2 separate regions of the Homo sapiens genome follow, and region 1 is linked to region 2. The links come from fine-mapping of genetic effects on gene expression. A gene starts in region 2. The other region holds a variant in brackets. All regions are shown on one strand. Distances are from middle to middle. Region 1 overlaps PMM1 (phosphomannomutase 1). Region 2 holds the start of SNU13 (small nuclear ribonucleoprotein 13).

Region 1 (15,574 bases), 110 kb after region 2:
GTGTGACTGGCTTCTTTGGAAGAAAACCAAGCTGCAGAGGGAGAAAGGCTGGAGAAGCAGGTTGTAGCCTCAGATTGAACAAATGGCCTTTGAATGTGAAACCAAGGGTGTAGGCTTCCTCTCTCTTTACTTGCCCGTGGGGTCACAGACGTGGTCTCACACTCTTTCTTCCTCCTGTCCTCTATGTGACCCTGAAGTCATTGAGAAGTTTGATTATGTGTTTGCCGAGAACGGGACGGTGCAGTATAAGCACGGACGACTGCTCTCCAAGCAGGTCAGTGTCCCCCAGGGCTTAGCCAGGGGCACCCCACTTTTCCATAGTGGAGCAGTCCAAGGGGGCTTCTGTCCTGGGCTGGGGGAGAGACACTGTGCCTGTCTCAGGGTCAGGCAGCCCAGGCCACGCTCAGAGCCCTGTGTTCCTTGGCCAGACCATCCAGAACCACCTGGGGGAGGAGCTGCTGCAGGACTTGATCAACTTCTGCCTCAGCTACATGGCCCTGCTCAGGCTGCCCAAGAAGCGGTGAGGTCCCACCAGCCTGGTCTCCAGAACCTGGGGCCTGAGGGAGGAGAAGTGTGGGTCCCTCAGAGGGAACCTGGAGATACTTGGGCCCCTGATTTTTTGCGGGGAGTGTGGATTCTTGTCCCCTTTGAAGTCCTAGGAGGCTGGGGTCCCAGGTGGGGCTAGATTTGAATTCAGGGCCGTTCTGGTTCTCTCTGGCTCCCCGCCCTCCCTCACCACCAGTGGAACCTTCATCGAGTTCCGGAATGGCATGCTGAACATCTCGCCCATCGGCCGGAGCTGCACCCTGGAGGAGAGGATCGAGTTCTCCGAACTGGACAAGGTACCACTAGCTATGCAATCTTAGGCCTGTAGGGCCTCAGTCACTCAATTTATCTGAGCCTTTATTTTCTCATCAGTAAAATAGACTGGGGGATGTGTTCTGATTTAACTGATACCCTTTCAGGCACCTACTGTGTGCCATTGTTGTAGACACACCTGCATCTTTACAATGCTGCTGGTCCCCCTTCCTAGGTGACCAGCACCAGGCAGCCACCCACTGAGCCAGGCCAACACCTGGGAACATCATTTCCACCTTCCCACCCACATCGGGTCCAACAACTCTTATTTCATCAGCCTCTCGAGTCAGTGTCAAATCTGTTCATCTGCAGAACTGAGACCCCACTTTCTAGATTACCCCTTTCCCCAGCCCCAGGCTGCCCCAACTTTCCTCTCTGTCCCTCCCTACCCCTTGCATAGCCCTGCCAGCCTGCTCTCCAGCAATGCCACTGAGAACCTTTCTTTCTTTTTCTTTTTGGAGATAGAGTCTCCAAAAAAATAGATAGAGGCTGGAGTGCAGTGGCATGATCTCAGCTCACTGCAACTCCCACCTCCCGTGTTCAAGCGATTCTCCTGCCTCAGCCTCCCAAGTAGCTGGAATTACAGGCATGCACCACTACACCCAGCTAATTTTTGTACTTTTTTAGTAGAGGCAGGGTTTCACCACGTTGGCCAGGCTGGTCTCGAACTCCTGACCTAAGGTGATCCGCCTGCCTCGGCCTCCCAAAGTTCTGGGATTACAGGCATGAGCCACCACGCACAGCCCATTAGAACCTTTCAAACATGTCAGCCGCATTCACCCCCCAGCCCCACCCCCTCATTTACAATCCTTCCTTGGCTCCTCGTTGCCAACTGGATGATGTCCTAGCCCCCTGCTATGGTGCCTCAAGCCCTGAGGGCTCTGTCTGGCTCTGGCTCTCCGCGTCTCCTTTCTATGCCCTTCAAGTTCCACTTTCTATTCCTGGAACACACCAAGGTCCTCTCACCTCTGCCTGTACTGCCCCTGCTAAACCTTGATGTGCATTTTGCTTTTCTCCCCACCGCCTCCCTCCCTCTCGGGGATGGAGCAATCCACCCATCCAGACCTTTCCATGCTGGCCCGTCCACGTCATTCTGTCATTCTCTCTGACCTGTTCGGTGGCTCTCCCTGCCCTCTGCTCCAGCTATGGCCTCTTGGCTGATTCTAGAGTGCTGTGCCTCTGTCAGAGCACACTTCTCTCAGGCCCAGCTCGTCCCTCCCCTCCTTCAAATCCCCTTTCACATCCTTTTCCCAGTGGGGCCTCCGAGAGTATCACATCCACTGCTGCACTTCCTCCTCCTTCCCCTACCTTATTTCTCCCCAAGTAGCCTTGGACAACTTTCATCATCTACTTTTAAAATCCGAATTACTGTCTGTCCCTGTCCCAGAACTGTAAGCTCCATGAGGGATTTCTGCGGCTTGTTCTCCTCTGGATCCCCTATGCTTGGCACATGGCATACTTTTTGTTGTTATTGTTTTTGAGACAGGGTCTTACTCTGTTGCCCAGTCTGGAGTGCAGTGCAGTGATCCAGTCCTAGCTCACTGCAGCCTCGATCTCTCAGGCTCAAGCGATCCTCACACCTCAGCCTCCTGAGTAGCTGGGACCACAGGTGCATTACACCATGCCAGGCTAATTTTTAAAATATTTTGTAGGGATGGGATCTCGCTGTGTCTCCCAGGCCAGTTTTGAACTCCTAGCCTCAAGTGGGCCTTCTCCCTCAGCCTTCCAAAGCACCAAGACTGTAGGTGTGAGCCACCGCACCTCGCAAAGAAATACCCTTTTTTGTTTTTTTTTTTTTGGAGACTGAGTTTCGCTCTGTCACCCAGGCTGGAGTGCTGTGGCACAATCTCGGCTCACTGCAACCTCCACCTCCCGGGTTCAAACAATTCTTCTGCCCCAGCCTCCCAAGTATCTGGGACTACAGGCACATGCTGCCACGCCCGGCTAATTTTTTTTTTTTAGACAGAGTCTTGCTCTGTCACCAGGCTGGAGTGCAGTGGCACAATCTCGGCTCACTGGAACCCCTGACTCGCTGGTTCAAGCGATTCTTCTGCCTCAGCCTTCCCAAGTAGCTAGGATTACATGCACCACAATGCCCAGCTAATTTTTTGTATTTTTAGTAGAGACGGGGTTTCACCATGTTGGCCAGGATGGTCTCGATCTTCTGACCTCGTGATCCGCCTGCCTCAGCCTGCCAAAGTGCTGGGATTACAGGCGTGGCCACTGTGCCCGGCCTAATATTTTGTATTTTAGTAGAGATGGGGTTTCACCGTGTTGCCCAGGCTGGTCTCGAACTCCTGAGCTCAGGCAATCCACCCACCTCAACCTTCCAAAGTGATTATAGGTGTGAGCCACTGTGCCCGGCAAGAAATACCTTTTGAATGAATGAAATGAGCTGTATTATCTCCATTTTATAAATGAGGAAACCAAGGCTCGATGAGAAGGGCCCTGCCCGAGGTCACATAGGGAGTTGGTTGCAGAGCAAAGATTTGATTTTGCCATTGGCCCTCTGGTGCCTCCCTGAGGGTGCCTCTCAGCTCAGTGACTCCTGACTCCCACCTGTGCCCTGAGGCTTAGGGGAGGCAGTGCCCACAGGCACAGGGACTTTTTTTTTTTTTCTTGATAGAGTCTTGCTCTGTCACCCAGGCTGGAGTGCAGTAGCATGATCTCAGCTCACTGCAACCTTCGCTGCCTAGGCTCAAGCAATTCTCCTGCCTCAGCCTCCTGAGTAGCTGGGATTACAGGCCCATGCCACCACACCTGGCTAAGTTTTTTGGTTTTGGTTTTGGTTTTGGTTTGGTTTTGGGTTTTTTTTTTTTTTTTTTTTTTGAGATGGAGTCTCACTCTGTCGCCAGGCTGGAGTGCAGTGGTGAGATCTCGGCTCGCTGCAACCTCTGCCTCCCGGGTTCAAGCGATTCTCCTGCCTCAGCCTCCCAAGTAGCTGGGACTACAAGCGCCTGCCACCACGCCCAGCTAATTTTTGTATTTTTAGTAGAGACAGGGTTTCACCATGCTGGCTAGGATGGTCTCGATCTCTTAACCTTGTGATCCGCCCTCCTTGGCCTTCCAAAGTGCTGGAATTACGGGCATGAGCCACCGCGCCCGGCCTAATTTTTGTATTTTTTAGTAGGGACAGGGTTTTGCCATGTTCAGGCTGGTCTCAAATCCCTGGCCTCAAGTGATCTGCCTACCTTGGCCTCCCAAAGTGCTGGGATTATAGATGTGAGCCGCTGCGCCCGGCCACGGGGACTTTTTTTTTGGGGTAGTTAGGATTGGTCTTAGGCAAAGAACCCTTCCCCCCCAATACACGTGCTGAGAAGTTATCCCTTCCTGTCCACCCAGGTTCCCAGTCCCAGCTCTACCCATTTGCCTTGTAACCTGGAAAAGCATCTTTACTAACGTGTGCCTCAGTTTCCTTATGTGTAAGGTGGGGGTAATAGCAGTTCCCATCCCATGGGCTGTCATGAGCACTGG[A/G]TGAGGTGGCACATGGACCCCACCTGGCATGGAGTTGGGGAGCCACACCCTAACTCCCCACCCCAGAGCCTTCTCAAGTATTTTTGGCTCTTGTTTGCTCCCTTCTGGCACTGGAGGAGCATGAACCTTCCTGATCTGTGCGCCCTGCCCTGGCCCAGAGCTGGTGTAAATAAATGCTTAACCCAGCTCATCTTCCAGAACCCTGAAGCGGGGATGAGTACTTCCCTTCCTTAGATGAGGACACTGAGGCCAGAGGGTGAGTAACCAGCTCGAGGTCACAGTGCCGGTCCCTGCTGAGGCTGGCCTTGCACATGGGGCTGTCTAGTGACCAGCCTTGTTCTCCAGAGAAGGGAGGTGCAGCCAGCCTCGGCCATGTGGAAACATTTCTTCAGAGCCTGGGGCAGTCTTAGTGGTAGCCCTGGGCCTACAGAGTGGACGCTGGTGGGGACTCTGGCCTCCCTGGGGCCCACCTACCTGCTGGAAAGCCAGGCCAAGGCTGGCAGGGGGCTCACATCCCTTATCTCTGCTTTTCCATGAGAGGGAAGCAGGCAGGGGTCATTCATTACTTCTCTGTCCTTTAGTCCAGGAAATAGGCTCAGAGAGGTCAGGTGACTTGCCCATGGTCACACAGCTGAGGAGTACAGTAGCCAAGCCTGGCTACTTGCCTTCAGATCTCAGGCTAGGGGGTGTCTGGCTTTATATCTGACATCCTCCCTGGGCCACTTCTCCAAGCTCCATGCTGCTGACCACTGCCTGCCTTTCCGCCCCAGTCCTACCCGGCTCTGACTACAGGGCCATACCAGCCACCCCACTCCTGTGCTCCAGAATCCTCAGCGCCTCTTGGTCCCCCAGGATGTGGTCAGACTTCCCAGCCCGGTCTCGAGACCCTCTGTCAGCTGAATGTCCTGCTGGCTGGTTTAGATGTTCAGCTGCCCCTCAGACTGGGCATAGCTGCTCCCCTTTGTGGCCCTCTGAGATGGAGATCCTGGGGGCTGGCGGGGAGAATGTCCCCCTGCTCCACGTTTGCGGAGCTGCTGCCAGAGTTCCTGCTCAGAGGGACGGGGCCGGCCTGGGCACTACCTAGTCCCCAGCCCAGCCGCGTCTTTGCATGCTGGGTGCTCTGCCATGCCTGGCATCCTGCTGCCCTCTGTGAATGCCCACAGCCACCTCCTCACAGGTCTCCTGCTCTCAGCTCCCATGCTCATTTCTGAGTATTTGCTTTGTTGAGCTGGTTACAGATAACAGGATCGAGCCCTGCCCTGAGGTGGACACTGATGTGGGATCCAGATTGCCCCGTCTCCTCGCCCTTCCTACTCGTGTCTCTCCTCTGAGGTCTCCTTCAGAAGACCCAGCCCACAGCCCCATTGGCAGCCCCATCCCTTCTGGATTTAGGCCCTGGCTCTGCCACCAGGGCTAGGTGACCTTGACCAAGGCACAACCCCTCTCTGAGCCTTAGTTTGCGCATCTGCACAGTTGGGGGTCCTACCCACCTAGAATGCTCAGCACGCTCACGTGGACTGTGTGCCCAGCCAGGGCCTGGCACACAGCAGGTCCTCTGAGCTGCCATCCGCTCCCTCCCCTCTGCAGAAAGAGAAGATCCGGGAGAAGTTCGTGGAAGCCCTGAAAACAGAGTTTGCTGGCAAAGGGCTGAGGTTCTCTCGAGGTACGTCCACCCTGCAGAGGACCTGGGAGGCCTGGTACAGGGCCCCTCCTCAAACCATCTGCCCCTGCCAAGACCAGGCTGTGGCCCCCAGTAGCTTTAGTAGCCCCTCCCCGGCTCAGGGCAGAGAGGGTGGCTGAGCCCGATGCAGAAAGGGGTTCAGTGTTTACTGGCCCCCAGTTTTCCCCACCTCATACCTCAGAGGTAAACGCCCCATGCCCACCCAGTTTCTCAGGCCAAAAAACCAGAGCCTCTCCCTTGAATGCTCTCCCCCACCCCTTCCCAAGTCCAAACTCCTAGAAGTCACAGGGCCCCCTGTCTGGAATCCCACCGGTGCTCACACTTCCACTGCCAGCAGCTTGTCCCAGGCTCCAACTGACCCTGACACAACTGGGCTCCCCTCTGCCACCTCACCCATTCCCCAGTGGCCAGAGAGGCTGGAGCTGGAGTCATGACATGCCTCTGCCCAAAGTCCTCCCCAGGCTCTTCCTCCCTCTCCATGTGATGCCCAGGGCCTGCCCGTCCTCCCCCTACCTCTCCTGGCCTCCTCCGTTGCTGGGACGCTCGTTCTCTTCCCTGCCTCAGGGGCTGTACTTTGCGCCCCAGCCATCCCCACTCGGCTCAGGTCCCAGCTCATTGCCACCTCCTCAGAGGTCTCCCCTGATCACCCTGGCCGGATGAGCTTCCCCCACCCACTTCATGGTCTTGTTCATTCTCCAACCTGTGTCATAACTTCCTTGAGGATCCTAAGTCTGTCCCGTGTCCTATTCCTGGCCCTCAGTAGGCACTCAAGGGTTGTTGAATGAATGAATGAACAAGCAGCCCTTCTGTTAGCCTTGTCTGCCCCTCCCAGCAGGGAATAACAGTCCCCACCCCTGCCCACAGGAGGCATGATCAGCTTTGACGTCTTCCCCGAGGGCTGGGACAAGCGCTACTGCCTGGATAGCCTGGACCAGGACAGCTTCGACACCATCCACTTCTTTGGGAACGAGACTAGCCCTGTGAGTGTGGCCCACCCCAGGTTTCCCCTAACGCAGTGGACAGTGAGAAGCCAGGTCTGGTGGCTTCTCCAATGCAAATCACCTGAGGTCAAGGCCAGAACATGGGGCAACACAACAGACCTCTTAGGGGGCTCCTGGAGAACAACCATTGCTCACCAGCCCCGTTACACAGATTGGAAAGCTGGGGCCCCAAGAGGCTGGGCACTTGTTCTACATCACACAGCAAGTCAGGGCAGGTCTGACAAGGGGTGAGAAGGTGGGCTTCCTGGCAGTTCTGAAGGGGCAGGAGGAGGGGCAGGTCCGTAGCAGCCAATGTGGAGAGGGACTCCACCTAAATATCCCTCCTCTGCCCATCCTCTGTGTGCAGGGTGGGAACGACTTTGAGATCTTTGCCGACCCCCGGACTGTTGGCCACAGCGTGGTGTCTCCTCAGGACACGGTGCAGCGATGCCGGGAGATTTTCTTCCCAGAGACAGCTCATGAGGCGTGACCGGGGCCCACATCTGTGTGTCGTGACTTCTGAAGAGTTTGGCCTAGGCCTAAAGAGAGGTCCTGGTGTTGGATAGATGCCAGGGCCCCTCCTCTGGCCCAGGACGCCTGCTGCAAGCCCACCCAGATGGGGCCAGAGTCTGTGTGGACAACCGTCCCCAGCCAGTCTGCTCCTAGTGGCACTGGCTTCGTCCTCCCAGGGCCCAGAGTGTTCCCCATGCTCCACCTGGTGGCCCAGGCCACAGCTGCTGCTTGTATTTCGGTACAGAAGAGGTTTCTTTCTGCACCAGGAGGAGGCGTGCTCAAGTATCGGTACGAGATCTAGCCTGCCCTGCCTGCCTGCCCTGGGCGATGAGGTACGGTGGGGAAGGTGCCTATTTTAGAGAACTTTGTCACAGTATTAAAGTTCCCAGAACAAAGTAGGTGTCAGCTGTGTCTGAATGGATAATTGGCCCCAGTCACATGCTGTCACAGCCACTACTTTGCCGACAAGTAAACAGCACAGAGAGGGCAGGGACTTGGCCCAGGTCACAAAGGAAGTCTGATGCAGTCGAGGAGGGGGCCATTGAATCCCCAAAGAAGAGCTGGTTTGGTGTGTCCACCCCCAGCCCCTTCCTTGGGGACCCTGACACAGAGGCAGCTTCAGGCCACGGTGGGTCACAGTTGAGGGTTTATTGCCAGTGTTAGGAAGAATGGGGGGTCTGGGTGGCCAGGGGTCTTGGGAGGAATTCCAAATGAGCACTGCAGGGCCTGTGAGTGGGGAGGAGAGCTGCTGCCCCCCTGCCACCCAGGAGGCCCCAGGGCTGATGCCACCATATCCTGACTGCTAGTGGTGCCTTAAAAGGTGGCCTCCCCACAGGAGGGGAGCCTTGGGGGCCCCCAGGAGTCAGCCCTCACCAACAAGCCCTCTCTCAAGGGGGCCAGGGGCCTTTATTCCTCATGGGACAGGCTGGGCCGTGCCCATTTTAGGGGAGCTGACCACACCTCAGCAGCTCTGGGCTCCCAGATTTTATGTGGTGGGCCCTGGGGCCGGGGGTGGGATGCAGGCATCCCGGCTGATTTCTACCCTGCGGTCTTGGGGCACCTACAAGGCAAGGGATCCTCCTAGACAGTCACTGATCCCCTCATCCTGGGCATTTGAGCCCCCAGTTTTACTCACAGACTGAGTCTCATAAGGGTCCCACCCCTGGCCAGCCCTCCCTCGAACCACGGCCCCACTTCTCCCCGGTCAGGCGATGTGCTCTCTAGAAGGGAGGGTGGTAGGCAGGGGGTGCACCCAGAGGTGGAGGCAGACAGGGCCCTCCTTCCTGGCCTCCTGGGCCAGGCCACCCTCACCCCTGCCTGGGAGTGAATGGCCACGACCCCGGGTGCACACACATCTTGGCCCCAAAAGGACTCCAGGTGACAGCAACAGCCACACATCTTCAGGGATGGATGCAATAAGAGCCACACCTCGGCCACTGGTCTGTTAGGGCTTTGGGAAGAGAGTTTGACGTGGAGGCCGCAGGGCCAGTCTCCCAGGCTGGGGGCCCTCCTCGTGGGTGCCCCGGACGTGTGTCCGTCCCTCGCGGCATCCACAGCAGCCGTCAGCCGGGCATGGCCCAGAGCATCAGTGGGGCTTGTGAGTCAGGGTAAAGGAGGTCTGCAGCCAAGCTGGAGAGATGGACCCCCACCCTCTGCAAACCCCTGGGCTCGGCTCAGTACAGCCCAGGGGAAGGAGCCCAGCGCCACTGCCAGGCTGAGGAGGAGGGACTGGCCGGCGAAATGGGAGCCCCAAACCCCTTCCGCCCTCAGGCCCCTCTTCCTGCCTCTCCATGGCACTGAGAGAGCAGAGCAGGAAGGAAGGCTGGCCTCGGCAGTGAGAGGCCTGTGTGCCTCCGTGTCAGTCCTCCTCCCCTGCCAGAGGCTGAGAGGCTCCCCAAAAGCACCCATCGGCCAGGCTTCTGAGGGAAGGGTCCAGGCTGTGGCGGGGGACCTCAGCCAAGGGAGGGAGATGTAAGTAGCACAGAGAGCCTGGCTCCGGGCCAGGGACTGACACGGGACAGCTCAGGGGCGGAGGCCAGGGAGTGAGCCCAGCGCAGGCTCTCGCAGCTCAGTCACCGTGGGGACGGGTAAGCAGGAGGGCGAGCGGGTCCTGCGTGTCTGCGGCAGGGAGGGGAGGAGAGAGGCAGTGGACAGCGCGAAGCCAGGTCTGGTGGCCTTGCCCTCCACCTACCTCCTGGCCAGCTTGCACAGTAGTCACGGGTCGTGGGGTGGGTGGAGGCACACGCTCATAGCCACAAGCACAGACGGACAGACAGACGTGCACACTGAGGCCACCGAAGGACTCATCAGCCAGGGCAGTGGGGCATGGAGCCGGCTGCTGCCCGTTCACCCTGTGTGGCTCCCCAACCCCCGGCCAGCTGGCCTGTGAACCACTCAGCCTAGGAGCCCACGACCTGGCCAGACCACGTCTCGTGGGGAGTGTGGGGGGCCAGCTGAGTGAGCACCACCTCCACGGCCTGGAACTTCTGGTTCTTGGGAGGGATAGGGCACATCTTGTAGGTCACCTCGTCGCCCTCCACTGGCACGTACTCCCCCTCGATGCTGGCGGGCAGGAAGAGGGGTATTAGCCCAGCAGCAGGCCCTGTGCCCCAGACAATCCTGTGGCCTGGCCTTGGGGGCAGCCTGGCCCTAAGCCTCCCTAGGCCAGGAGGCCTGGCCAGGCCTTGCTTCTCAGAACCTCAGCTCTCGAATCTGTAAAACGGGACTCATGGCTGGGCACAGTGGCTCACGCCTGTAATCCCAGCACTTTGGGAGTCTGAGGCGGGCGGATCACCTGAGTCAGGAGTTTGACACCAACCTGGCCAACATGGCGAAACCCTGGCTCTACTAAAAGTACAAAAATTAGCCAGGCATGGTGGCTGGCACCTGTAATTCCAGCTACTTGGGAGGCTGAGGTGGGAGAATCGCTTGAACCCAGGAAGTGGAGGTTGCACTGAGCCGAGATTGTGCCATTGCACTCCAGCCTGGGCGACAGAGCGAGACTCCCTCTCAAAAAATAAATAAAATAAAATAAAATGGGACTCATAAACTGTACCTCCCTTTCTGGGTCCCTTGGGGACCGAGATGTGAAAGGGCACGGGGAGGTCCCTAAAGCTCTGAGAAGCTCAGTGACCTCCCCCGGTCCTCCTGGCATTAGAAGTGGGTGGGGCCAGGCCTAGACATGATATCCATCTCTACCTCCTGGCCCACCCACATGAAGGCCCTTTCCAGGCCAAGAGGCTCAGGAGCTGGCCTAGCCCTCTCAGACCTCCACGATGCTGTAACAGGATCCAGGGCCCAGCCGCTGGCTCCCAGGCTTCTGGGGTCTGCGTGCCCACTCCCTCCCTGGCCCCAGCCCTCCTCTCCCAACGCACCCTCAGCCCCTACTCAGAGGACAGAAAAGGCACCATGAATACAGACCTCAGCCAGTGAGAGGAGAGGCCTGGAGAGCCATTTTTGAGGCACCATTGGGGACACTAGGGCAGGGGCCAAGAACAGGGAGGTGGAGGGGACTCACTCAGACACATGTACGAAGATGTCCTCGGACCCGTTCTCGGGGGTGATGAAGCCATGGCCCTGTGAGCGTGAGAACTGCTTACAGACGCCCTTGAACACGGGGCCAGCTGAGGCCCGGGCTGTCCTGGAGATAGGGTAGTGGGATTGGAGCTGTGGCCTGAGGAACTCCTCCCCGGATCCCTACAGCCATTCTGGGCCCTTTCTGCTGAGCGTGCCTCAGGGCTGTGAGAAACTTGACCCAGGCCAGAAACCACACAGTCATCCCCATTCAACGATAATGAGGCCAGGCACGGTGGCTCACACCTGTAATCCCAGCACTTTGGGAGGCTGAGGCGGGAGGATCACTTGGGCCTAGGAGTTTGAGACCAGCCTGGACAACATAGGGAGACTCCCATCTCTACAAAAAAAATTTTTTTTTTTTTTTGAGACAGGGTCTTTCTCTGTCACCCAGGCTGGAGTGCAGGGGTGCAATCTCAGCTCACTGCAACCTACACCTCCCAGGTTCAAGCAATTCTCATGCCTCAGCCTCCTGAGTAGCTGGGATTACAGGCACCCACCACCACACCCAGCTAAGTTTTGGCATTTTTAGTAGAGACAGGGTTTTGCAGTGTTTGGCCATGTTGGCCATACTGGCTTGATCTCCTGTCCTTAACTGATCCACCTGTCTCGACCTCCCAAAGTGCTGGGATTACAGGCATGAGCCACCATGTCTGGCCCAAACATTTTTTTAAAAAAATGAGCTGGGGGTGGTGGCACGCACCAGTCGTCCCAGCTACTCAGGAGGCTGAGGTGGGAGGATTGCTGAAGGCCAGGAAGTTGAGGCTGCAGTGAGCCATGACTGCACCACTGCACTCCAGCCTGGGCAACAGAGCGAGACCCTGTCCTTCCCAAAAGATCCTTTGGCCTCCCCCATATGGACCCGTATTACTCCCCTATGCCACCTCATCGGTGACCTACCCCAAAGGCCCAGGCCTAGTCTTTGTCCCGCCTACCTACCCCTCTCCAAAGGTTAACTCCGTGTCTTGGGTTTTGCCCATGCTGTACCATCTGCCCAGAATCGCCAGCTCCCTTCTTCACCTGATACATCTTCCATACCCAACCAGGACATCATCTCCTCTGGTACCCCATGCTGGGTCCTCACCCCTAACCCTGCTGGGTGGTAATGGATGGTGAACAAGTTCCCTCTGGATTGTAAGCAGCTTATGGATCCTGACTGGTCAGGAGCTCAGTAAATCTTTGTGGAATAGATGGATAGATGAATGGATGGGTGGATGGATGGACGGACAGACGGATGGATGGACGGATGGATGGGTGGGTGGATGGATGGATGGATGGATGGACAGGTGGATGGATGGATGGATGGATGGATGGATGGATGGATGGATGGATGGGTGGGTGGGTGGGTGGGTGGGTGGGTGGGTGGGTGGGTGGGTGGATGGATGGATGGATGGATGGATGGATGGGTGGATGGGTGGATGGATGAATGGATGTATGGGACAAACATCCATCCAGTTACTGGAAGGTCCACACACAGTTCCCCTGTCCCAGGTGAGGACAACAGGAGTTGGAAGAGGATGGGGATGGTCAGCCCCTGTCCTGACAAGGGTCAGGGGCCTGGGCAAGGGGCAGGTACTCACGCTGAATAGGTCCTGGTCCGCTTGGTGGGCAGAGGGCTGGGTAGGTCCCGAGGTGGGACACCACCCCGCTCCCAGACCCTGCTGCCCTCCCTGTGGAAGGGGAAGGTGGGCCAGACTGGGGACTTGGGGGAGTGGAGCGGGGGCACAACTGGGGGTGACGTCGACTCTGAAGTCATGGTGGGGCCAGCAGGAGAGCCTGGTGGGCTCTGGGGCCCAGGGGCCGGTGAGGGGTTTGGTCGTCCTTGCGGGCAGGGCCCGGCCTGGCCCTGCTCTGCGGCCTCACCAGCCACGGGCTCCGTCTGGAAGAGGAAGAAAGAGGCACAGGTGAGCCTAGTCCAGGGGAGCAGCTCCTGAACCCTGGCCACAGTGAGGAGGGCTGGTCCCACCTGCTATCCTCACGGCGTTACTTCAAGTCACAAACGACCCCATCGTGGTTCAGAGTCCTCACCAGAAAAACAAAACTAGGGGTCATATGACCCCTAAGTCCTTCCAGTTTGCAGTTCAATTCTCTTAACTCCAGGGGCCTGGGAGGTGGCTGGGTAGGGTGGCCAGTGATGGTCTAGAATATGGTTCGGCATAAGGGTCAGTTGTTTCAGAGTCACACATCTGGGTTCAAACCTTAGCTTTGTCACCTACAACTTGGTGACTTCAAGCAAGCCAAGCCACACATCAGCTCCAACATGGCAGGTGGGAGTATGGGCTCCACACCCAGGCCTGGGTTTGAATCCTGCATCCTCCACCTTCTGGCTACATAGCCTTGGCTCTGGTCAAATTTTTTTTTTTGTTTTAGACAGAGTCTCACTCTTGTTGCCCAGGCTGGAGTGCATTGGCACGATCTCGGCTCACTGCAGCCTCTGCCTCCTGGGTATAAGCGATTCTCCTGCCTCAGCCTCCTGAGTAGCTGGGATTACAGGCGCCTGCCACCACACCTGGCTGATTTTTTGTATTTTTAGTAGAGATGGGGTCTCACCATGTTGGCCAGGCAGGTCTCGAACTCCTGACCTCAGGTGATCTGCCCACCTTGGTCTCCCAAAGTGCTGGGATTACAGGCATGAGCCAACTCGTCCAGCGCATTGGTCAACACTCTTAACTTCTGACTCTTATTTTCTGTTCTGTAAAATGGGGCTAGCATTGATCCTTTGTTTTTTTTTTTTTTTTTGAGACATGGTCTCATCCAGTCTGGGGAACACTGACATGGTCATGACTCACTGCAGCCTCCATCTCCTGGGCTGAAGCGATCCTCCCACCTCAGCCTCCCAAGTAGCTGGAATTTACAAGCATGCACCCTCACACCTAGCTAATTTTTTTTTTTTTTTTTTTGAGACAGAGTCTCACTCTGTCACCCAGGCTGGAGTACAGTGGTGTGATCTCGGCTCACTGTCACTTCTGCCTCCCAGGTTCAAGTGATTCTCCTGCCTCAACCTCCCAAGTAGCTGGGATTACAGGTGCCTGCCAACACGCCTGGCTAATTTGTGTATTTTTAGTAGAGACGGGGTTTCACCATGTTGGCCAGGCTGATCTCGAACTCCTGACCTCAGTTGATCTACCTCCCTCGGCCTCCCAAAATGCTGGGGTTACAGGCCTGTGGCCTCCAATTTATACCCCTCCCACCCCAGAGCTTGGAGTTCCCAGGGAAGGAAAATCACCCACAAGGTTCCTGTAAGGTTCCTTGGAGTCCAGAGCTCAGAAAGCCTGAACACCCTGCATGGCAGGCCTGGATGAGTCCAGGAGTCCACTGGAGCAGGTCTTCTGGCCTCTGCTCAAGATTATACAGCAAGTGGAATTTTTCTGAACCAAGATGCTGAGCTGGCTCTGCCATGCCTAGGGGTGGAGGTGGAGTAGTATCCTCCCTCCTCCCAAAACCCTCCCCCTCCAGTCAGGAAGGCACTGGAGCCCCGGGCTTGGCTTGCCTCACAGACCCTCAACCCTGAAAAGGCTGAAGTGGGGCTTTTCTGTCTAAGCTCATGCCAGGTTGGCAGGGCAAACCAGGTTTGGCCTTTTCACCCATTATCCTCATTTTAGAGAGAAGAATACGGAAGCTTCAAGAAGCAACCACACAAACAGCCGGGTGTGGTGGCGCACACCTGTAATCCCAGCACTTTGGGAGGCCAAGGTGGGCAGATCACTTGAGGTCAGGAGTTCGAGACCAGCCTGGCCAACATGGTGAAACCCCGTCTCTCCTAAAAATACAAAAATTAATCGGGTGTGATGGCATCCACCTGTAGTCCCAGCTACTCAGAAGGCTGAGGCATGAGAATTGCTTCAACCCGGGAGGCAGAGGTTGCAGCAAGCCAAGACCACACCATTGCACTCCAGGGTGGGTGACTGACCCAGACTCTGTCAAAAAAAAAAAAAAAAAAAAAAGCAACCACACAAACACTTGGACATAAATGTTCATGAATGGTCACACCAGTGCTCATTCACAACAGCCAACAAGTGAAAACAGCCCGAGCCCATCAGCAGATGAATGGATAATAAATTATGGTCTAGACACATGGTAGACTAGCACTTGGCCATAAGAAAAAGAAAAGAAGAAATACTGATTCACGCTACACCCTAGATGAACCCTGCACACATTATGCGAGAATGTTTGCAAGGTCACAGAGAAGAAGCCAGTCCCAAAAACACAGAGGGCATGATTCCATCTCTGAGGCAAATCCTCATAGACAGGGAGTCCACTGGTGGTCACCAGGGCTGGGAAGGAGGGAGAGGGGAGGGCTGCCAATGGGTAGAACGTTTCTTTTTGGGGAATGGAAATGTTCTATAATTGGCTGTGGTGATGGCTGCACAACTCTGTGAATGTACTAAAAACAACTGAACTGAACGCCTTAAGCAGGTGAATTTTATGGTATATGAACGATATCTCAGTAAAGCTGTTACCAAAAAAAAGAAGACGGGGCAGCAAAGTTACCCAA
Region 2 (15,574 bases):
CGCCGGGGAAGACCCCACTTCAGGTGTGCAATCCTCCTCCGCATGAGGGACTCCAGGAGCAGTCGTTTGCTCTTCTTGAGGCCTGTCCCCTTGGGCAGGACAGTGAGGGCGGTGGGAGGACCCGCTAGAATGATGGCAGCTTCCGGGGCTGGGCCACACGGGAGACAGGAGCAGGCAGAGGGCATGCCCAAGGGAGCTGTCAGAGACGGAGGGTTTTGGGACTGCCGAGTCAGGCTGGGGGCCTTCTCTGGATCCACCCCTTTGTCCCTTTGTCGTCTTCTCCAGGATTCAGGTTGGGCCTGCTGGGAGGCTGGACTGATCCCCACTCTATGATCCCTGGCAGGGGTTGTGCCCTGGCTGGCCAGATGCTCTCCCTCCCCACCCACCAGCAGGAAGACTTCACCCCAGTGGGGGACAGGATTCATCTCAGGACAGGGGGCAGAGATGAAACCATTCACAGCCACTGCCTGTTCCTGTTCCCGGGTCCCACATCCATAGCCAGTGAAGGCTGGAGGCCATGGTAGGCTGTGCTTCCTGCCTGTGGGCCTCTCACTCCCAGAACAGTCGACTTGGAGACTGTCCCTCACAGCATCCTCTCCTCTGACCAGATCCTTGTTTCCTCCCCTTGGTGCTCGAGGCTCTCCAACATCCTCATCTGTGCACTTTCTCTGGCTTCCTATATCCTGGAGTTCTGCAACATCCTCAACTCCACCGTCATTCTTATTTCCTTGCCCTTGTACCTGGATCTCTTCAGCAATTTCAACTCTTAACTGTCCCTGGTCATCTCCTGCAGGAGCCTGGGTCTCTGTACCATCATCAGCTGTGGTCCCTCTCAGGTTTCTCTTCCCCTGTATTTGAATTTCTTCATCATTCCCACCTCCACCCTGTTCCTGGTTCTTCCACTCTGATAAACGGGTCTTTCCATTATCTTTACTTTTTAACAGTCTGTTTCTTCGCTCTAAGCCTCCAGTTTTTTCCCCTAAGCCTCCAGATCATTCTACCGTCCTCGTTTCCAACCTCTCTCTGGTTTCTCTTCTCTGATGCCTGATTTTCTGCAACATCCTTTCCAATCAGCTCCCAGTTCCTCCTCCCTGGTGAATGGCTCCCTCCAATTTCACTATCTAACTGGTCCTCGTTCTCTCTCTTAGGTCTCTGAGTCTTTACACCGTCCTCACCTCCAGGTTCTCTCTGGTTTCTCTCCACTGGAGCCTGAATTTCTGTTCCATTCTCACTTCCCATCTGCTTCTGGCTCTTCCACTCTGATAAAAGGATCTTTCTACCAAGATCACTTCTAAACTGACTCTGGGTTTCTTTCCCAGGTGCCCAGGTCTTTACACCGTCCTCACCTCCAACTTCTCTCAGGTTTCTCTTCCCTTGTATCTGAATTTCTGCCCCATTCTCACCTCCAATCTGCTGATCTTTCTTCCATTCTGCTGAATGCATTTCTCCATCAATTTGACTTGTTAATTTGCCCCAGTTCCCTGACTCAGATATCTGGGTATGTGCACCATCTTCGCCTCTAATATGTTCCTGATTCTTCCCCTTTGGTATGTGAATCTTTCCACTAAATTCATTTCCTAACTGACCCTGATTTTTCCTCCCAAGTTCCTGGGTGTCTTTATCATCCTCACCTTTAACCTCTCTCCTCCCTAGTGACTGAATGTCTGTACCATCCTCTTCTCTAAGTGGCTCATTGCTCTGAGTCTCCACATCAGTTTCACCTTTTAATTGTTCCTGGATCTCAGCCTCGGGTGCCAGGATATTTGTGCCATCCTCACATCCATCCTTTCTTTGGTCTCTCTTCTCTGATGCCTGAATTTCTGCTCTATGTTCACCTCCAATCCAGTTCTGATTCTCCCAACATAGTATCTCAAATTCTCTATAAATTTCACTTGCTACTTGTCTCCGGTTTCCCCACCATAGTGCCTGGATCACCACCCAATCCTTCTCTTATCTCCCTGAGCTTCTTCTTGGTAGCTATCTGGGTTTCCTTAGCATCTTCATCTCTTCTCAGGCCCTTATTTCCCCACCCCACTTGAATTTCATGACTTAATTGTTTCTGGTTCTCTCCCCCAGATGCTTGGGTCTTCTTAGCTTTCTTACTTCCACCTTGATCATGCTTCTCCCACCTTGGTGTCTGGATCTCTGTAACATTCCCATTTCCAACACATTCCTGTTTTCCCCAATCCAAGGCCTGGGTCTCTACACTATTCTCTTTTTTTACTTCTCCCACGTTCTCCCTCCCACATGATTGGGTTTGTGCAGCATCCTGACCTCCAACCTGATCCTTGTTTCTCCCCTCTTCCATCTGAATTTCCACATCCGCATCACCTTTCATCTGATCTTGTTTCTCCCACTGTGGTGTCTGGGTCTCCTCACCATTCTCATCTCCAGTCTGGCCTTGCTTCCCCAATCCTTGAGCCTGGATCTCTTCCCCATCCTCCTCTCCAGCCTCTTTCTTGTCCTTCTTCTCAAATGTCTGGGTCTCCACAGCATCCTCACTTCCATTCTTATCCTGGTTCTCCCACTCAGGTGTTTGGGTCTCTGCATCAATTTTACATCTTAACTGTTCTTGGTTCTCTCCCATATGTGCCTGGGTTTCAGGGAGATTCTCACCTCCAGCCTCCCTCTGGTTTCTATTCCCTAGTTCCTGAATGTTGGTTCTACTCTCAACTCCCATCCGGTCCTGGGTGTCCCACCCTGGTGTCAAGATCTCGCCATCAGTTTCACTTATTACTAGTCTCTGGTTTGCACACTCCAACACGTTAGTCTCTGCATCACCCTCCATTCCAAAGTCTACTGGGAACTACTCCCCAGATGCCTGGATTTCTGAAGCATCCTCCCGTCTGCTCCCTGTCTGGTTCACCCACCTTGGAGCCTGGGTCTCTCTACTATCCTCTCTGCCTGCTTTCTGGTTTTTACCCCCTGGTTCCCAGGCCTCTGGTCGACAGTGCCAAGACTTCCAAGTGCACATTCTCAGTGTTTGGTGGGAAGGATCAGGCAGGAGCTCTCTGGGGGCAGAACTGCAGCCTCTCAGCTGAAAGTAAGTTTGGAAGAGAGGTGGTTAAGGTCATGGAGGTGGGGCGAGACCTCACACTGATGACAGGCTCCAGTGACACCAACCTTTCCTGTGAGTGAAGCAGCAGCTGCTCCATCTCTTGACACATGTCCAAGGCAGGGCGAGTCTGACCATCATGGAGACACCAAGGCACCTGCCATGCTTTCCAGGAACTGTTCTGAGGCAGTAAACAGGTGTTTGAAATGGAGGTGGTACAAAAGATGGGCTCAGAGTGGGTGTGGACACCCGAAGGTGGGCCTGGACATGGGTGCTGTGGAGAGAGCAGGTTCTGGGCCCATGATTCCTGGAGGCTCCTCCGGTATCCCCATCTCTGCCTTTGTGCGCATTGTTGAGAATCTAGGCCCCTGGACTTTCCAGGACTGAAGAATTCAGGAGTCAGCTTGAAGACAGTTTCGCACCTCATGGAGGGCACTGCCCGCTTCTGCAGTGGCACCTGTAGATGAGAACAGAGAAGCAAAATCCTTGCACACATAATAACTTGCATAATCCGCACAGACAGAATAGTCAGGAAAGGCTTCTTGGAGGAAGTGACATTTGACTGGAGCCTGAATGAAGTAAGGGGCAAACCAAGTGACATCTGAGGAAAGAGCGTTGTAGGCAGAAGAGACATTAAGTACAAAGGCTTGAGGATGGAACAAAATTACATGTACAGGAACAGCAAAGAAGACTGTGTGGCCAGAATGGAACCAGTAATGAGGAGAGCACTGGGAGATAAGATCGGAGACAAACATGGGACAGATTATGCTGGTCCTTAGAGTCGTGATTAGGAGCGAGAATTTTATTCTGAGTTTGCCAGATAATGTAAGTATAGGAGCCATTGCAGGGTTTTGAGCAGCTAAGTGCTATGTTCTGTTTCTAAAAGTTTGTTCTGATGGCAGGGCATGGTGGCTCATGTCTGTAATCCCAGCACTTTGGGAGGCCAAGATGGGTGGATCACTTGAGGTCAGGAGTTCCAGACCAGCCTGGCCAACATGGCAAAACCCCTTCTCTACTAAAAATACAAAAATTAGCCAGCCATCATGGCGCATGCCTGTAATCCCAGCTACTCAGGAGGCTGAGGCACAAGAATTGCTTGAACCCAGGAGGCGGAGGTTGCAGTGAGCCAAGATCACGCCACTGCAGTCCAGCCTGGGTGACAGAGCGTGACTCCATCTGAAAAAAAAAAAAAAAGAAGAGGCTGGGTGCACTGGCTCACGCCTGTAATCCCAGCACTTTGGGAGGTCGAGGTGGGCGGATCACAAGGTCAGGAGATTGAGACCATCCTGGCTAACACGATGAAACCCCGTCTCTACTAAAAATACAAAAAAAAAAAAAAAATTGGCCAGGCATGGTGGCGGGCACCTGTAGTCCCAGCTACTCAGGAGGCTTAGGCAGGAGAATGGCATGAACCCGGGAGGTGGAGCTTTCAGTGGGCCGAGATCGCGCCACTGCACTCCAGTCTGGGTGACAGAGCAAGACTCCGTCTCAAAGAAAGAAAGAAAGAAAGAAAGAAATCCAGAGTCGACCAGGCGTGGTGGCTCACACCTGTAATCCCAACGCTTTGGGAGGCCAAGGTGGGTGGATCACTTGAGGTCAGGAGTTCGAGACCAGCCAGACCAACATGGTGAAACCCTGTGTCTACTAAAAATACAAAAATTAGCTGTGCGTGGTGGCACATGCCTGTAATCCCAGCTACTAGGGAGGCAGAGTCAAGAGAATCACTTGAACCTGGGAGGCAGAGGTTGCTGTGAGCCGAGATCGCACCACTGGACTTTAGCCTGGGCCACACAGCAAGACTCCATCTCAAAAAAAAAAAAAAAAGAAAAGAAAAAAAAGAAAAACAAGAAAGAAATCTGCAGAGTTGGCTAGGAGTGGTGGCTCATTCCTGTAATCCCAGCACTTTGGGAGGCCAAGGCAGGCGGATCACATAAGGACGGGAGTTCGAGACCAGCATGACTAACACGGAGAAACCTCGCCTCTACTAAAAATACAAAATTAACGGGTGTGGTAGTGCATGCCCATAATCCCAGCTACTCAGGAGGCTGAGGCAGGAGAATTGCTTGAACTTGGGAGGCAGAGGTTGAGGTAAGCCGAGATCACACCATTGCACTCCAGCCTGGGCAACAAGAGCAAAACTGCATCTCAAAAAAAAAAAAAGGAAAAGAAAAGGAAATCCGCAGAGTTGTGACTAAAACTTCTGGGCTGCTGGTAATCATTTGTTTCTTAATCTGCATGCTACAAACTGATGTATTCAATTATGAAAATTTACTGATCTACACACTTGTAATTGTGTGTGTGTATTATCCTTGGACCAATTTTTTTTTTTAAAAGAGAGAAAAAAGAGGCCAGGCACAGTGGCTCACACCTGTAATCCCAGCACTTTGGGAGGCCGAGGCAGGCAGATCACAAGGTCAGGAGCTCGAGACCAGCCTGGCCAACAAAGTGAAACCCCATCTCTACTAAAAGTACAAAAAAAAAAAAAAATTTGCCAGGCGTGGTGGCGGGCGCCTGTAATCCTAGCTACTCGGGAGGCTGAGGCAGGAGAATCGCTTGAACCAGGGAGGCGGAGGTTGCAGCAAACCAAGATCACACCACTGCACACCAGCCCAGGCAACAGTGTGAGACTCTGTCTCAGAAAAAAAAAGAGAGAGAGAGAGAGAGAGAGAGAGAGAAAGAAGAAGGCCATTCTGGTGACTGTATGGAGGATAGGCTGTGGTTGGATAAGAGAAGCAGCAAGAACCAGGCAGAAGGCTGTTGCTATGGTCCAGTTGAGACATGATGGTGTCTCTGCCCAGGAGGGTGTGGTGTGGTTAGAAGTGATCAGATTTGAGATACAATTTGCAAGTATAGCCCCTGGGACCTGCAGATGGATTGAATGTGTGGAGTGAGGGAAAGAGAGGAGCTCAGGGTGACTCCTGGGTTTGGGGCTTGGCCGATGCTCTCCCTGAGCAGCCTGAGTTTCCCTCTGATTCATTTCTGGTACACCAGGCATAAAACAAGGTCCTTGTAACAAGTGACAGAGACAATCATGGTGCTGAGGGAAGAAGGGTGAAGGTGTATGGGGCCCACTCACCTTGATGACATTCCTTGTGCTGAAGCGGGTCCTGGTGACCTGGTGCCAACAGTGCCGGACCTGCCAGACCAGAAAGAGGCAGAGGACAAGCAGGTTGCCACAGCACTGAGGGTCCCTGCAGCTGTGATTCTGGGAGAGCAGGCCCTGCACTGGCTCCCACTCAGGGCCATGGAATGGCCCCACCACAGCACAGGCACCCAGCAGTGACAACAACATGGCAAAGCTTAGATCAGGCAGATGGTGTTGGGAGCTAGAGGGCAGGCCTGGCACATCTGATGCAGCCAGCTGCAGTAGGATAGCCGCCACCTCATAGCACCCCTGTCACTGAGGCCACCTCACAAAGGGGGCTGATGCCCCAGCCTCAACTCTGACCCTGGTGCCAGGCCTGGTTAGCATGCTCTTGGTGCAGGTAAGGACAGTATTGGGGAATTGTTCAAAAGTAATTAGGAGGAAGAACTTGTTTTAAACAAACCCATCCTCTGGAATGAAAAGATTAAGTTCCCTGAATGTGTGATGGGGTGATATAACCTGCGGTCTGCTTGATTTCTTTCTTCCTATGAAATACTTGGATCTGCCTGTCCTTCTATTATCAAACATTTAATGAACACTGTATTGAATACATGTATTCTTGTTTAACCACTCAACATGCCTTTCTCGTTGCTTGCAGTATCCTGATTTCCTGTGGGGGAATTACTTTTCCCATCTTAGGATCAGTGTTGGTGGGAAAATAAATGTTACCCTGAAGACTCTTTTACCCAAAAGTTCTATTCAAAATATTAAATATCTGAGCAGGCAGGGACGTCAGCCAATTATAATGAGCCAGGCCTTAACTGTTTAGTGGCTGGAATTTTTTTTTTTTTTTTTGAGACCGAGTTTCCACTCTTGTTGCCCAGGCTGGAGTGCAATGGCGCGATCTCGGCTCACTGCAACTTCCACCTCCCAAGTTCAAGCGATTCTCCTGCCTCAACCTCCCGAGTAGCTGGGATTACAGGCATGCGCCACCACGCCCGGCTAATTTTGTATTTTTAGTAGAGACGGGGGTTTCTCCATATTGGTCAGGCTGGTATCGAACTCCCAACCTCAGGTGATCCGCCCGCCTCAGCTTCCCAAAGTGCTGGGATTACAGGCGTGAGCCACCGCACCCGGCCCTCTTTTTTTTCTTCTTTTTTTTGAGACGGAGTCTCACTCTGTTGCCCAGGCTGGAGTGCAGTGTGCAGTGGTGCGATCTCGGCTCACTGCAAGCTCCGCCTCCGGGGTTCACGGCATTCTCCTGCCTCGGCCTCCCGAGTAGCTGGGACTACAGGCGCCCGCCACCATGCCCGGCTAATTTTTTGTATTTTTAGTAGAGACGGTTCACTGTGTTAGCCAGGATGGTCTCGATCTCCTGACCTAGTGATCCGCCTGCCTCAGCCTCCCAAAGTGCTGCGATTACAGGCGGGAGCCACCGCACCCGGCCGGCCTTTTTTTTTTTTTTTTTGAGAGTCTCGCTCTGTCGCCTCAGCTGGAGTGCTAGAGTGCAGTGGCATGATCTCAACTTACTGTAGCCTCCACCTCCGGGGTTCAAGCGATTCTCCTGCTTCAGCCTCCTAAGTAGCTGGGGTTACAGGCGCCCGCCACCACGCCTGGCTAATTTTTGTATTTTTTAGTAGGGACGAGGTTTCGCCATGTTGGCCAGGCTGGTCTCGAACTCCTGTCCTCAGGTGATGCGCCCGCCTCGGCCTCCCAAAGTGCCGGGATTACAGCCATAAGCCGCTGCGGCCGGCCGGTGGGTTACTTTTTGAATGTTTAATTCATTGTTTCTGCCAATAATTTGTACTAGGCAGCTCATAAGAACGCCAAAGTACGTTCCTTCTTCGACACAGGGCCAGTTTCCGCGCCAGTGCCCCCGTAGAGGGCGGGGCCCACTCGCTCGCGTAGCGTCACCTTCGCTTCCTGCCGCGCGGGGCCATTTCCGCTGCTGCTTCTGTGAGTTTTTCCGGTGCACGCGAGTGCTTCTGAAACGTCAGCTGCGCTCCCCTAGGAGTGCTGAGCCCGCGGAACCGCAGCCATGGTGAGTGCGTGCGCCGGCCGAGGGACCGGGAAGCGGGAGACTCAGGGTTGCGTTCACTCCCTAGCCTGTTAGATGGAGGCTTAGAGCCTGCGCCGTCTCATCCGCCGGCGTTGGGTCTTAACCGCCGGGCCCTTAGTTAGAACCCCAGCAGCGGCGGGGTCCCAGCAGCCTGGCCCGAGGTTAGAACTCAGGAAACCTTAGGATCCCCGCAGCTGTGTTGCTTTGCCGCACGGTCTGTTTGCTTGGCAAAAGGCCTGCAGCGAGCGGAGGGGGCATGGCCCAGCCTGGGAGAAAGAGACCAACCCACGTGGGAGAGGGCAAAAAGTTGGGTGAAGAAAACTTGGCTCCAACTTTTTTTTTTCCTTGTTTCTTTTCATACGAAATCTACGATGGCGTGGGACCCTGGGATTCGGATCAACCTCTCCTACCCACCCTACCTCACCCCACCCCCGTTGCTGGGGTTCAGGAGGAGATCTCCCATGGGTCTGCGCTTAGTGCCCGCCGCGAGTCACACGCGCCAGGGACCTAGAGGAGCCTTTGGCATTTGGGGGCTGTGGGGAACATGAAGTGAGCGCGACTCACGGCCTGGAGTGCAGGAAAGGCTTCTCCTGCAAGGCGGTGGCTTCAAAAACCAGAAGTCTGGTAGCACCACGTGCGGCGTCTCTAAACTCTTGGTCGTCTCTGACTTTTAAACATCTAGGGAAAGTTCTAAAACGTGTGTCCTGGCGTAGTAGTTTTGGTTGGCACTTGGTGAGGAGGGAAGAATTTGTAAAGCACTGTAACTTCTATAGTTAATCCTTCCAGTGGAGCTTGGATCCCGGCGGTAGCACTCCCCACAAACCTCCTCCCATGCATTTTGAAGCTTAGTACGTGGCTGAGCCTAGAACTTGAAGCTTCCAAACTCAGTGCTCGCTTTAACGCAGCTCCCTGAAACGTTTTGGAATCGGATGGTCTCAGGTTGAACTTTGCAGTTTTCCTCAACTGTAAAATGGGGATGACAGTGCATGAGGGTGTTGTGAGGATCAAATGAAATAAAGCATGGTAAACATCTAGTCCTGATGCTTGGTACAGAGTAAGCACGCAGTATTTGTTGTTCAATCAAAACCTTGCAAGTTTTGGCTGTCTGGTGTACAGCGAAACCAAACTGATCATGCTAGGTAGGGATTTAGGTTGGCTGGTGGTATGATATCATTCGTTAATTTATTTAACCCCTGAAGAAATTGAAAGGCAAATAAATACACCCTAAGCAAGTTTCAATTAGTGTTTATAAGCTAGTTTGGTTTTAAAATTGAGTTTAACTTTTTTGTTGACTAATAGTGAAACATTTAGGTATTTAATGATTGTTCAGATTCCTGAAGTCTTCCTCTTTTATGAATTTGATGTTTATTGAGATTTGAGAATCCTGATTTCCAGAGAATGGGTTGTTGGAAACAATGGCAATTTTTAAAGTTTTTTTAAATTGACATATCATAGTTGTACATACTTTGGGGGTTCCATGTAATATTTCTAAGTATATCTATTTTAAAACATGCAACAGGGCCAGGCGCGGTGGCTCATGCTTGTAATCCCAGCACTTTGGGAGGCTGAGGCGGGTGGATCATGGGGTCCGGAGTTTGAGACCAGCCTGGCCAACATAGTGAAACCCTGTTTCTACTAAAAATTCAAAAAAATTAGCCAGGCGTGGTGGTGGGCACCTGTAATCCCAGCTACTTGGGAGGCTGAGGCAAGGAGAATCGCTTGAACCTGGGAGGCGGGGGTTGCAGTGAGCCAAGATCACACCACTGCACTCCAGCCCGTGTGACAGTTTGAGACTCCGTCTCAAAAAAATAAATAAATAAAACTTGTGATAAATTATTAACCAAAATTTCCAGCTGGGCACGGTGGCTCACGCCTGTAATCCCAGCACTTTGGGAGGCTGAGGCGGGTGGATCATGAGGTCAGGAGTTCAAGACCAGCCTGACCAACATGGTGAAACCCCATCTCTACTAAAAATACAAAAATTAGCCAGGCGTGGTGGTGCGTGCCTGTAATCCCAGCTACTTAGGAGGCTGAGGCAGGAGAATCACTATAACCGGGGAGGCGGTGTTTGCAGTGAGCCGAGATCATGCCACTGCACTACAGCCTGGGTGACAAAGCAAGACTGTGTCAAAGAAAAAAAAAATCCCTACTGTAGTATCAAATAAAACATTTGTATGGCCGGACGTGGTAGCTCACACCTGTAATCCCAGCACTTTGGGAGGCCGAGGCGGGTGGATCACCTTAGGTCAGGAGTTCAACCTGGCCAACATGGTGAAACCCCCATCTCTACTAAAAATACAAAAATTAGCTGGGCGTGGTGGTGCATGCCTGTAGTCCCAGTTACTCGGGAGGCTGAGGCAGGAGAATTCCTTGAATATGGAAGGCAGAGGTTTCGGTGAGCCGAGATTGCGCCACTGCACTCCAGCCTGGGCGACAGAGGGAGATGCCGTCTCTTAAAAAAAAAAAAAAAAGATAAAAGAATAAACTCCAAATCAGTAGAGGGGAAAATAGTGCAAATGCAATGATAAATCCAGAGAAAGGAAAGAAAGAAAAAGAAACAGAACAAGTGGAACAAATAGAAGGCACAAAAGAAGGAAAATTTGAAACCATTATACCAATACTTAAATATGTAAAGGGACTGAGTGCTCCAGTTAAAAGACGGGATGTGGCCAAGCACTGTGGCTCAAGCCTGCAATCCCAGAAATTGGGAGGCTGAGGCGAGAGAATCTCTTTAGCCCAGGAATTGGAGACCACCCAGGGCAAAATAGTGAGATCCTGTCTCTACAAATTTTTTTTTTTTTTTTTTTGAGACAGAGTCTCGCTCTGTCACCCAGGCTGGGTGTGCAGTGGCACGATCTTGACTCACTGAAACCTCTGTCTCCTTGGTTCAAGCGATTCTCCTGTTTCAGCCTCCCGAGTAGCTGGGATTACAAGCATGTGCCACCATGCCCGGCTATTTTTTGTATTTTTTTAGTAGAGACGGGGTTTTGCCGTGTTGGTCAGGCTGGTCTCCAACTCCTGACCTCAAGTGATCTGCCTGCCTCAGCCTCCCAAAGAGGTGGGATTACAGGCGTGAGCCACCACACCCAGCCTAAACAATTTTTTTTTTAATTAGCCAGGAGTTGGCCGGGTGCAGTGGCTCATGCCTGTAAACCCAGCGCTTTGGGAGGCTGAGGTGGGCGGATCACAAGGTCAGGAGTTCAAGACCAGCCTGGCCAACATGGTGAAACCCCGTCTTTACTAATAATACAAAAATTAGCCGGGCATGGTGGCGCATGCCTGTAATCCCAGCTACTCAGGACGCTGAGGCAGGAGAATTGCTTGAACCTCGGAGGCAGAAGTTGCGGTGAGCCGAGATTGTGCCACTGCACTCCAGCCTGGGCAACAAGAGCAAAACTCCGTCTCAAAAAATAAAAAATAAAATAAAATAAAATTAGCCAGGAGTGGTGGCCCACACTTGTAGTTCCAGTTACTGAGGAGGCTGAGGCAGGAGGATCGCTTGAGCCCTGGAGGTCGAGGCTGCAGTGAGCTATTGTCATGCCACTGCACTCTGGTCTCAGTGATAGAGTGAGACCCTGTCTCAACAACAAAAAGGGTGTAATTCTTTTTTTTTTTTTTTTTGAGATGGAGTTTCACTCTTTCGCCCAGGCTGGAGTGAAGTGGCATCATCTCAACCTACTGCAATCTCCGCTTCCCGGGTTCAAGCCATTCTCCTGCCTCAACCTCCAAGTAGCTGGGATTACAGGTGCCTGCCACCACACCCAGATAATTTTTGTATTCTTAGTAGAGACGGGGGTTTCACCATGTCATCCAGGCTGGTCTTGAACTCCTGACCTCAAGAGAGCCACCCACCTTGGCCTCCCAAAGTGCTGGGATTATAGGTGTGAGCCACTGTGCCTGGACTGCCCCAGCTAAGTTTTTAAATATTTTTAGAGATGGGGGTCTCACTGTGTGGCCCAGGCTGGTCTCAAACTTCAGGCCTCAATCAGTCCCCAGCCTCAGTTTCCCAAGTTGGTGGGATTATAGGCCTGAGCCACTGCAGCCAGTTCAGAATACACTCTTCAAACATGGAACGTTTTTGAAAATTGGCCATAAAGCAAGCCCTGCAAATTTTAACATTGGTAATATTACATACCATTTTTGCCTAACCCAAAAGGAAATAAGTTAAAAATTAGTAACAAAGTAGTTTGAAATGAAAAATATAAACTATCAGAGAGATTTAAAAATTGTAGTAGGAATTCAAAAATAGAACAGAACAATAATGAAAATACCACATACCAGAGCATAAGTGACAAGGGCAGAGGGGGGAAGAAACAAATGAAAGGATATAATGAAAGTATTACTTGGAGCCTAAGATGCTAATGCTAGGGAGAAACGGGATAAAAAGGTAGAAAAAAACACTAGCACAAAATAACCCCAAAGAAAGTAGAAGGAAAGAAAAAAAACAAAAGGAGAAATTGCTGAAATAGAAAGTAGAGCATACTGCTGGGTCTTTTCCTTTCCGAAGCCCCTCTTTCTCACCAGAGAGAGCTGTTCTTTCTCTTTCTTTTGCCTATTAAACCTCTGCTCCCGGCCAGGCGCAGTGGCTCACACCTGTAATCCCAGCACTTTGGGAGGTCGAGGCAGGTAGATCACCTGAGGTCAGGAGTTCGAGACCAGCCTGGCCAACATGGCAAAACCCAGTCTCTACTAAAAAATACAAAAATTAGCCCGGTGTGGTGACGCGCACCTGTAATCCCAGCTACTGGTGGGGGCTGAGGTAGGAGAATTGCTTGAACCCAGGAGGCAGAGGTTGCAGTAAGCCAAGATCGCACTACTACACTCCAGCCTGGGCAACAGAGCAAAACTCCATCTCAAAAAAAACAACAAAAAAAAACCCTGCTCCTAAACTCCTGTGTGTCCATGTCCTAAATTTTCTTGGCATGAGACAACAAACCCTGGATATTTACCCCAGGCAACGAAGCTAGTTCAGTTTGACACTGTTGTCAAAGTTTTGGGGAATTAGTCACTGTCATGCATTGCTGGTGGGTGTGCAAGTTGTTAAACCCTATATAGGGTCAATTTAGAATAGATATAAAAGTTACAAATGCATATTATATCTTTTGACTCGTTAATCCCACTTCTAGGAGTTTATCTTACAGATATACTGAATGAAACATAATATAGATTAGGTATAGATGAGATTAGACATTATAGCATTTACATAATAGTGAAAGATTAAAAAATATATAAATGGGCTGGGCACAGTGGCTCACACCTGTAATCCCAGTACTTTGGGATGCCCAGGCAGGAAGATTGCTTGAGGCCAGGAGTTCACGACCAGCCTGGACAACATAATAAGACAGTGCCTCTAAAATTAAAAAATTAGCCAGACGTGGTGGTGCATGCATGTAGTCCCAGCTACTTGGGAGTCTGAGGCAGGAGGACCACTTGAGCCCAGGAAAGTCCCCCTCAGAAAGATTAATCGAAAAAATAAGGCCAGGCACGGTGGCTCACGCCTGTAATCCCAACACTTTGGGAGGCTAAGGCAAGCGGATCACTTGAGGTCAGCAATTGGGAGACCAGACTGGCCAACATGGTGAAAGACCTTCTCTACTAAAAATACAGAAAAATTAGCCGGGCGTGGTTGTGCATGCCTGTAGTACCAGCTGCTCTGGAGGCTGAGGCTGGAGAATCGCTTGAACCCCGGAGGAGGTTGCAGTGAGCCAAGATGCCACCACTACACTCCAGCCTGGGTGACAGAGCGAGACCCTGTCTCAAAAAAGAAAATGTTTAAGTAGGTAACATGTGAAGGAGACATACTCTATAGACATTAAAAAGAAAGGATGGCCAGGTGCGGTGGCTCATGCCTGTAATCCCAGCACTTTGGGAGGCTGAGGCAGGCAGATGACCTGAGATCAGGAGTTCGAGACCAGCCTGGCCAAAGTGGTGAAACCCCGTCTCTACTAAAAATACAAAAATCAGCCGGCCGTGATGGCGGTCACCTGTAATCCTAGGTACTCAGGAGGCTGAGGCTGCAGTGAGCCGAGATCGCGCCACTGCACTCCAACCTAGGCGACAGAGGGAGACTCCGTCTCTAAATAAATAAATGTATGAGGAAGAGAAAAATAATATGGAGGTCTTCCCTTGACCTCCCCCAACCCCCTTCCTTTAGAGAACTCCTCCATCCTTCACCTAATTCTTCCTAGTTGTCCTGGGACCAAGACAAATTCGCCTAAGATAAGGAGTTACGTAGAAGACAGGGCGTCCTGGTGTACGGGCTGGCCCTGGACGTCACTTCCGCTGGCGGCAGTGGCGTCACTTCCTGCTCTTGGGGGCGGGGCATCCGTGTCCTTGCGGTGCTGGGCAGCAGACCGTCCAAACCGACACGCGTGGTATCCTCGCGGTGTCCGGCAAGAGACTACCAAGACAGACGCTATGGTGAGTGTTCCTACTGGGCCATTATCTCCGGGTCACCTCCCGAGAGCTGTGGTGCCGCGAGCGTGGTCCCGCTGTGTCAGAAAAGCTGTAAAAAAACGGAAGGAGGAAAAGGCAGGTGCGCGGTGTCGGGCAGGAGACCACCGAGGCAGGCGCTATAGATGAGTGGTCCCACCAGGCCATCTCCGTCTCCAGCGACTGCCGTCCACCCTATGTCCAGCCTCCAAGGCCGAGGTTAGGTGGTAGCCGCAGTGAATCACTCGCGATTCGCACGTTACACACGATGGCGACATGTGGGGCCGCACCTGGGTTATAATATGAATATATCCTTGTATATAAATATGTGTTTGTAAAAACAAAAAAAAAAAGAGAAAAATTAATGAAAATGATTTACTGGAGCAGTGGGAATGAGATGGAAGGAGCGGAATAGGCAGGCCACTCACCCAATATGCTCCCTACATGGGTGTGTATTTATTTATTTATTGAGACGGAGTCTCGCTCTGTCGCCCACGCTGGAGTGCAGTGGCGCCATCTCCGCTCATTGCATCCTCCGCCTCCTGGGTTCAAGCTATTCTGCGTCAGCCTCTCGAGTAGCTAGGACTACAGGCGTGAGACACCGCGCTCGTCCCCTACATGGGTTATTTTGACACAGATCTGAATGACATCATTTTATCCATAAGTATTACAGTATATATCTATAAAGTAAGAATTTTTAACATAACTGCAAATGCCATTAATTAGTTAATAAGGGTTGCAAGTTGGTGATATTTAACTGTACCATTCCCTCTTTATTTATTAGGCGGAAGAGTGATACAAGAGGTACTTCTCATCTTCTACCTGGTTACCGCCTAATACAGCATTTAGGAAAGGCACAGAAGATGATTGTTTCCCTTTCCCAGTTTTCAAAATATTGAGTTGCTATCACTTGCATAGTTTTGACTTTTAAACCATGAAGATA

The links. PIP is the estimated chance that this variant, and not a neighbour inherited with it, causes the effect.
Region 1: its variant is fine-mapped to the expression of SNU13 in monocytes after interferon gamma (Fairfax 2014, PIP 0.93).

The regions. Positions count from the first base shown.
Region 1 is chr22:41,569,227-41,584,800 of GRCh38, reverse strand. It overlaps PMM1 (phosphomannomutase 1), which reads left to right. Exons shown (of 8, transcript NM_002676.3): 3 at 198-274; 4 at 429-520; 5 at 743-842; 6 at 5,920-5,995; 7 at 6,878-6,993; 8 at 7,361-7,901. The coding sequence ends at 7,483. It overlaps CSDC2 (cold shock domain containing C2), which reads right to left. Exons shown (of 4, transcript NM_014460.4): 2 at 12,660-12,958; 3 at 11,024-11,146; 4 at 8,135-10,068. The coding sequence starts at 12,835. The coding sequence ends at 9,906. Among named protein-coding and RNA genes, the nearest start is that of PMM1, 13 kb to the left of the region's middle. The variant A/G (reference allele first, on the strand shown) is at 4,333.
Region 2 is chr22:41,681,401-41,696,974 of GRCh38, reverse strand. SNU13 (small nuclear ribonucleoprotein 13) reads left to right here and starts at 8,108. Exons shown (of 3, transcript NM_001003796.2): 1 at 8,108-8,181. The coding sequence starts at 8,179. It also overlaps the pseudogene C22orf46P. RefSeq lists enhancers at 1-92, 103-182, 8,009-8,188, 8,739-8,908 and a silencer at 8,428-8,627.